Regions from separate parts of the Homo sapiens genome. Here region 1 is linked to region 2. Evidence: fine-mapped expression QTL. A gene starts in region 2. The other region holds a variant in brackets. All regions are shown on one strand. Distances are between the middles of the regions.

The links. PIP is the estimated chance that this variant, and not a neighbour inherited with it, causes the effect.
Region 1: its variant is the best candidate, but not a certain one, in a credible set for the expression of MUS81 in monocytes after interferon gamma (Fairfax 2014, PIP 0.55).

Annotation. Positions count from the first base shown.
Region 1 is chr11:65,018,791-65,021,691 of GRCh38, reverse strand. ARL2 (ARF like GTPase 2) reads right to left here. Exons shown (of 5, transcript NM_001667.4): 4 at 1,193-1,273. The region is part of intron 3 of ARL2-SNX15 (ARL2-SNX15 readthrough (NMD candidate)); the gene reads right to left. Among named protein-coding and RNA genes, the nearest start is that of MIR6879, 1.7 kb to the right of the region's middle. The variant G/C (reference allele first, on the strand shown) is at 1,406.
Region 2 is chr11:65,858,909-65,861,809 of GRCh38, reverse strand. MUS81 (MUS81 structure-specific endonuclease subunit) reads right to left here and starts at 1,377. Exons shown (of 16, transcript NM_025128.5): 1 at 922-1,377; 2 at 708-837; 3 at 375-460. The coding sequence starts at 1,056. RefSeq lists enhancers at 1-122, 815-1,354, 1,635-1,724, 1,855-1,904, 2,425-2,514 and silencers at 705-794, 965-1,124, 2,175-2,254.

The DNA of each region.
Region 1 (2,901 bases), 840 kb after region 2:
GCCAGTGACTGCAGACCCTGCCTGCCGTCAGCCCCTTCCCTCCCCAGCCCAGAGGAACTCCACGCCTTCCTCAAGGCCCTGCTCCATGTCATCCCATCCAGGAAGCCCCGCCGGTCCCAGGGAGAGTTTGTCAGACCCCAGGGGCACCTGGGCTCTCTGTCCAGTTCCATGCCAGTGCTGCCCCTTAGTGATGTAAATGCAGCATGGGCTCCTGAGCATCCACCAGGATCCGGGCATCGTGCTAGGAGCCCCACACACCCTCTCTCACTCATTCTCCTCAAGCCCTCATGAGCCAGGGATTGTGTCGACCATTTCACCAAGGAGGAAACCAAAGTTCAGAGAGGTTAAGCAACCTGCCTAGGGGAACATAGCTCATAAGTGGCAGAGCCAAGATTTTAACCCTGCTCTTTCTCACTGTGGTGCTTGAGCACTAGAATCATGGTTAAAATGTGGGCTCTGGGGTCAGACACAGGCTTCCTGTCTATTTAGTGGCTGTGTGACCTGGGACAAGTTACCTAACCTCTGTGAGCCTGCTTCACCATCTGTAAAATAATAGTTCTCACCTCATGAGGTGGTTGTGAGAATGAAATGAGTTAATCCATGCAAGGAGCAGAGCATACTGAAAGCACTGACTTGTGCTGGCTACCGTTAGCCTGTGAACAACACATGCGCAGCTCTGCCTTCCCCAGGCTGTGGGCCACCCCATGCCTTATTAATCACTGGATCCCCAGTGCCCTGCATAGGTCCTGCCACCTAGCAGGGCTAGGCTAATAAATGCTTTTCTTATTATTATTTTACTTCTTTCTTTTTTTTTTTTTTTTTGAGACGAAGTCTCACTCTTTTCCCACAGGCTAGAGTACAATGGCGCAATCTTGGCTCACTGCAACCTCCACGTCCTGGGTTCAAGCGATTCTCCTGTCTCAGCCTCCTGAGTAGCTGGGCTTACAGGCGCACGCCACTGCACCCAGCTAATTTTTGTATTTTTAGTACAGACGGGGTTTCATCATGTTGGTCAGGCTGGTCTCGAACTCCTGACCTCAGGTGATCCACTCGCCTTGGCCTCCCAAAGTGCTGGTATTACAGGCGTGAGCCACTGCACCCAGCCTTTTTGGTTATTTTTAATAAATGCTTTTAAAATAAATAAATGTATGCCCCTTTCCCTCAGCGAGCCTGTCCCGGGGCCTGGACTCACCTCGCGGATGGCGTTAGAGGACAGTGCTCCAGGCAGGTCCTGCTTATTAGCAAAGATGAGGAGGGTTGCTCCGGCCAGGCGCTGGGGGAGAAAAGATAGAGGGGTGGGGTGGGGACTCAGAGGACAGCCTGACCCCTCCTCTAATGGCCCAGAGCATCTGGGGTGAAGGATCGACCTGGAAGATCAAGGTGAGGCCCCGTGGTGGTGGGAGAG[G/C]CCCAGGAGTGAGTTTGTGGACGTAGCCATCAAGGCTGGCCCACATGAATGGAGCAGCCCTGGGCCAGGGTTCTGGTTCCAGCCAACCACCACCCAGGGGACACCGCTGTCCCCATGCTCCAGCTTCCTCTTCCATGAACAGGGAGGGGTGTTGCATAAGATGATCCCTGAGCTCTCCGTGGTTCTAGACTGCTCCAATCTGATGACCAGACATGCACAGAGGATGTGAACTCTCCCTCTTCTGGGTTCACACAGCCCTTTAACCGTTCCACTCCCGACAGGCCTCACTGTCCACCTCTGATTCTAGTTGTTTCCACATATGTGTCTGTGATTGGGAGAGATGTGGGTGGACGGGTCTAACCCTTGGGCCTTGACCTGCCTTGACCAGCATTTGACGGCCCTGATCTCATCTGACCTGCTCCACCCACATAGGAGATGTGTGCGGTGTGCCCAGGACAGTCCCCACTCTGCCTGCAGAATCCCCCCTTTCACTCTCACAAGTGTCCTCATTTTCAACTAAATGCAATTTTGTAGCCTGAATCAAACATTGGAACACAAAAAGTATATTAGTGGAAAAACGTGAAATTCAAATAAAATCTGTAATTAAGATAATAGTAATTCACCAGTGTTGATTTATTAGTTTGGACAGGCCACGGTTAGGTAAGATGGGGAAGCAAGGTAAAGGGTATATGGGGGACCTCTGACCTCTGTACTATCTTTGCAAGTGTCCTTCTTTTTTTTTTTTGAGACGGAGTCTCACTCTGTTGCCCAGGCTGGAGTGCAGTGGCACAATCTCGGCTCACTGCAAGCTCCGCCTCCCAGGTTCACGCCATTTTCCTGCCTCAGCCTCCTGAGTAGCTGGGACTACAGGCGCCCGCCACCATGCCTGGCTAATTTTTTGTATTTTTAGTAGACACGGGGTTTCACCATGTTAGCCAGGACGGTCTCGATCTCCTGACCTCGTGATCCGCCCGCTTCAGCCTCCCAAAGTGCTGGGATTACAGGCGTGAGCCACCGCACCTGGCCCCTTCCTTTTTTTTTTTTTTTGAGACAGGGTCTTGCTCTGTCGCCCAGGAGGCTGGAGTGCAGTGGCACGATCACAGCTCACTGCAGCCTCAACCTCCTGGGCTCAACTGATCCTCCTGTCTGAGCCTCCAGAGTAGCTAGGACTATAGGTGCGTGCCACCACCCCCAGCTGAGGTCACACAGCAAAGAGTCAGACTCTTGAGCCAGGCTCCATGGCCTCTCGAAGCTTCATACTGGCCTTGGGTTATCCTCCCTAAAGCCCAGTGATGTGGGTGTCATCATCACCATTTCAAGGCATAGAAACTGATGCTCAGGGTAGTGACGTAGTAACACCACAGGGACGTTAACTCAATCTCAGTCCACAGCATGTGTCCTGCCTCTGGCACCATGGGCCTCCCATGGTGGGGGCCCAGAGAAGGAAGGGATCCTGCCTCTGGTTTCCCTCTGGGGCCACGGGCCCCTCTGGGCAT
Region 2 (2,901 bases):
GATGATCCGCTGCAAATCTGGGATAAAACAGCAGGCAGTTTCGGGGCAGTGGGTGGGGGTGTCTGCCCAGCCTGGCCTCACTTCTACCATGCGCTGCAGGACAGGTGTAATTAGACAGGAAAACTCAATAATGGTGACCCCGTAACTAACTGAGCTGGGATCCTTAAGTAGCTTGATCATGGAATTCTCTCATTGGCTGTTACCAATATTTCTATTCACAGGTTAAAATACTAAGTCGAAAAGAGGATAAGTCATTTGCTCAAGGCCAGGCATCACTGGTGAGATTTGGACTCAGGCTTGCCAAATCCCCCAAGCCAGAAAATCATACTCCCGCACTCCCACTTTGCCTTCCACTCCCCTTGCCCCTTCCTCACTGGCATGGAAGAGTCCTGGACTTCCGCAAGTCGCCCCTGCGGGGCTGGACTGTTCTCTCCAGATGGTGAGTCCGGGGCATGGTCACCTGCGGGAGAGAAAAGAGTTAACTCCACACTCCACGAATCCGGCAGCTGCGAGGATCTGGGATGCAACCTACTCAGATGGTTACGTGAGACCGGTGAGGGAGGCTCAGGGAGCGCCAGCCACTAGCCCTAGGCCGAACGGCAACTGGGACAGGAGTGGGGAGCTTAAAAGCCAAGGGCTCCCAGGAGAGTACGGAGGCTCCACCTGGGGGAGGTGGGGGATCACCGACCCCTTTCCGAGGCGCTCACCGCCCGATGTTCGGTGCCGCTGCAGCCGCTCGTCCAGCATCCGGCAGAGCCCGTCTCCGAAGTGCTGTAGGATCTTAGCTTCCTTCCCGCTGCGCAGCGGCAGTGGGTACCGTCGGAGGGAACGCAGCGCCTGGCCGGGCAGGGGTAGGGTACCTGGTCAGGGCAGGCCTGACCTGGCCAGCAGCTTTTCCCATCGGGCCACGCCAGGACCCACCTTCTGAAATACGAAGCGCGTGCGGCGCCTGCTGCGGGTCGCCTCGTCCCGCCACTCGGTCAGCCAGCGAACGAAGAGCGGGTTGGGACAGGCAGGCAGCGGGCGCTTCCGGCCCAGGCGGACCGGGGCCGCCATGAGCCCGAGGGCGGGTCCTCCGGCGCTCCACGCCCGCGGGACTGGGACGCCGCCAGTTCTGGAGTCGGGATTCGAACACCTGGCCCAGGGCGGGGCGGGGGAAGAGGGAGACCGAGGGCAGGACCGTTGAGATCACGGGGCCCCAAACACAGGGGGCACTAACGAGAGGAGAGCCTGCGGCCGCCCTCCCACCCCTGCGCTGCTCTAAGTGGTTGGTCAGGGGCGCTGTCTCTAACGATCTTTTCCCTTGGCTCCACTCCAGCCAGCCTTTGAGACGCGCCCTTTCCCAGCCCCCGGAGCCTGGACCGGCTCCTTCCTGTCACCCCAGATTCGAGAGCGGGGTCTTTGTGTAGGCGAGAGGAAGGCGGACAGCGCCCCCTGTGACGGGGAGGACTGGCTGGGCGGCGCTTAACGGACTAACCTGAGCTTGGCGGCTCTAAGGTCTCTTAAGATTGTCAGCTTCAGCCTCAAGCTTGAAGGAGGCTGGAGATGGAGACTGGTCTTGAAAAGAGTCCAGGAGAGGCGGGGGCTAGGAGACAAACGGGTGCAAACGTATTGGTGGGAGGGACACCCAGAAATGGGTGCCGGGGATGAGGACACAAAGGTAAGGCAGGAGGAGCTGCAGGACCCTTGGAGGAAATGGTGATCCTCATCCCCGGGATACAGGGCAAAGAGTGTGTGGTGGAGAGGAAGTCGGGGACGTGCCGAGAAGGCCCAAAATAGAACTCGGAATGTCGGGGGTCAGAGGCCTAGAGGAAGGAGGACTGTAAGTAAGAGGTGCTTGGGCATCCTGGCAGTTGGGGAGGCCTGAGATGGGCACGCGGTTGGGTTTGGGAGCGGAGGAGCAGGCTGCGGGTTAAGAAGCCCAGACACAGGTAGAGGGGAGAACACTTCGTCATTTTTGTGGCTAATCGGAAGTGGGAGACCCTCAGGGAGGTTGAAGATGGAAACCCTACAAAGGGCTTCAACCTGAGAAGCCTGAAAGACACGTATAGCTGAGTTGGACACAGGCGACCCGCCAGGGTTTGAAGCAGCACCCGGCCTCTAGCTGCTATGCCGGAAGTCGCAACACGCAGGTCTCCAGCCTGCGAGGAAGGGAGAGGTGGGCGCCAGAGCTCCAGTCCCGCCCCTCAGGACTGTGCCTAGCCCACGGCGCAGTAGCCCCAGCCAAGCTAAATTGGACCAATGGGCTCCGGCTCCCGCCTCCCGCCCGCCGCGGCCTTATAAGGAGCCTCAAGCCGGCTGTCGGGCTGGCCCCGCCCCCTCGAGTCTCTTGTCCTAATAAGGACATCTAGGGCATCCCGCGGCTGGGGGCGGGCGAGAGCGCGTCTCCAGGGTAACTGCGAAGCCCCCCTCTCTCTCCCCGTTGCTCTTGGAAACTCTAAGGCTCAGAAAAGGGGGCGCTAGCCTCATATTCATGTAGGGTCGCTCGCGGGAGGCGGGGTCAAGCTGCTGTCTCCACCTGGAGCGCCGGGAGTCCGGGCGGGGGCGGTGCTGTGGAATGTCCCCGACTACAACCCCCGGTATGCTCTGCAAGGTACCCCACTCCCAGGCATCGCTCTCCGTTTACACCCTTAATTCCGTTTATAGGATTAGGGCCCCCAGTTCCCTTTCTGGGTTTGCCTCTGACTTGTTTGCGACCCAGTCTTTTCCTGCAGAGTGTGAGGCTGTGGTCACTGTTCTAGAACAACAAAATCATCCCGGAGTCCCCCGCTCGTTTCTTTTTTTTTTTAAGGCATATACTACCACAGAACTTGTCTCAGTTTTGCGGATGTTAGAATAACCATGTACCTGGCTATCAACTCGAGAGCTGGGTTCAAGTCTGGTTTAATATCTATTTCTTCT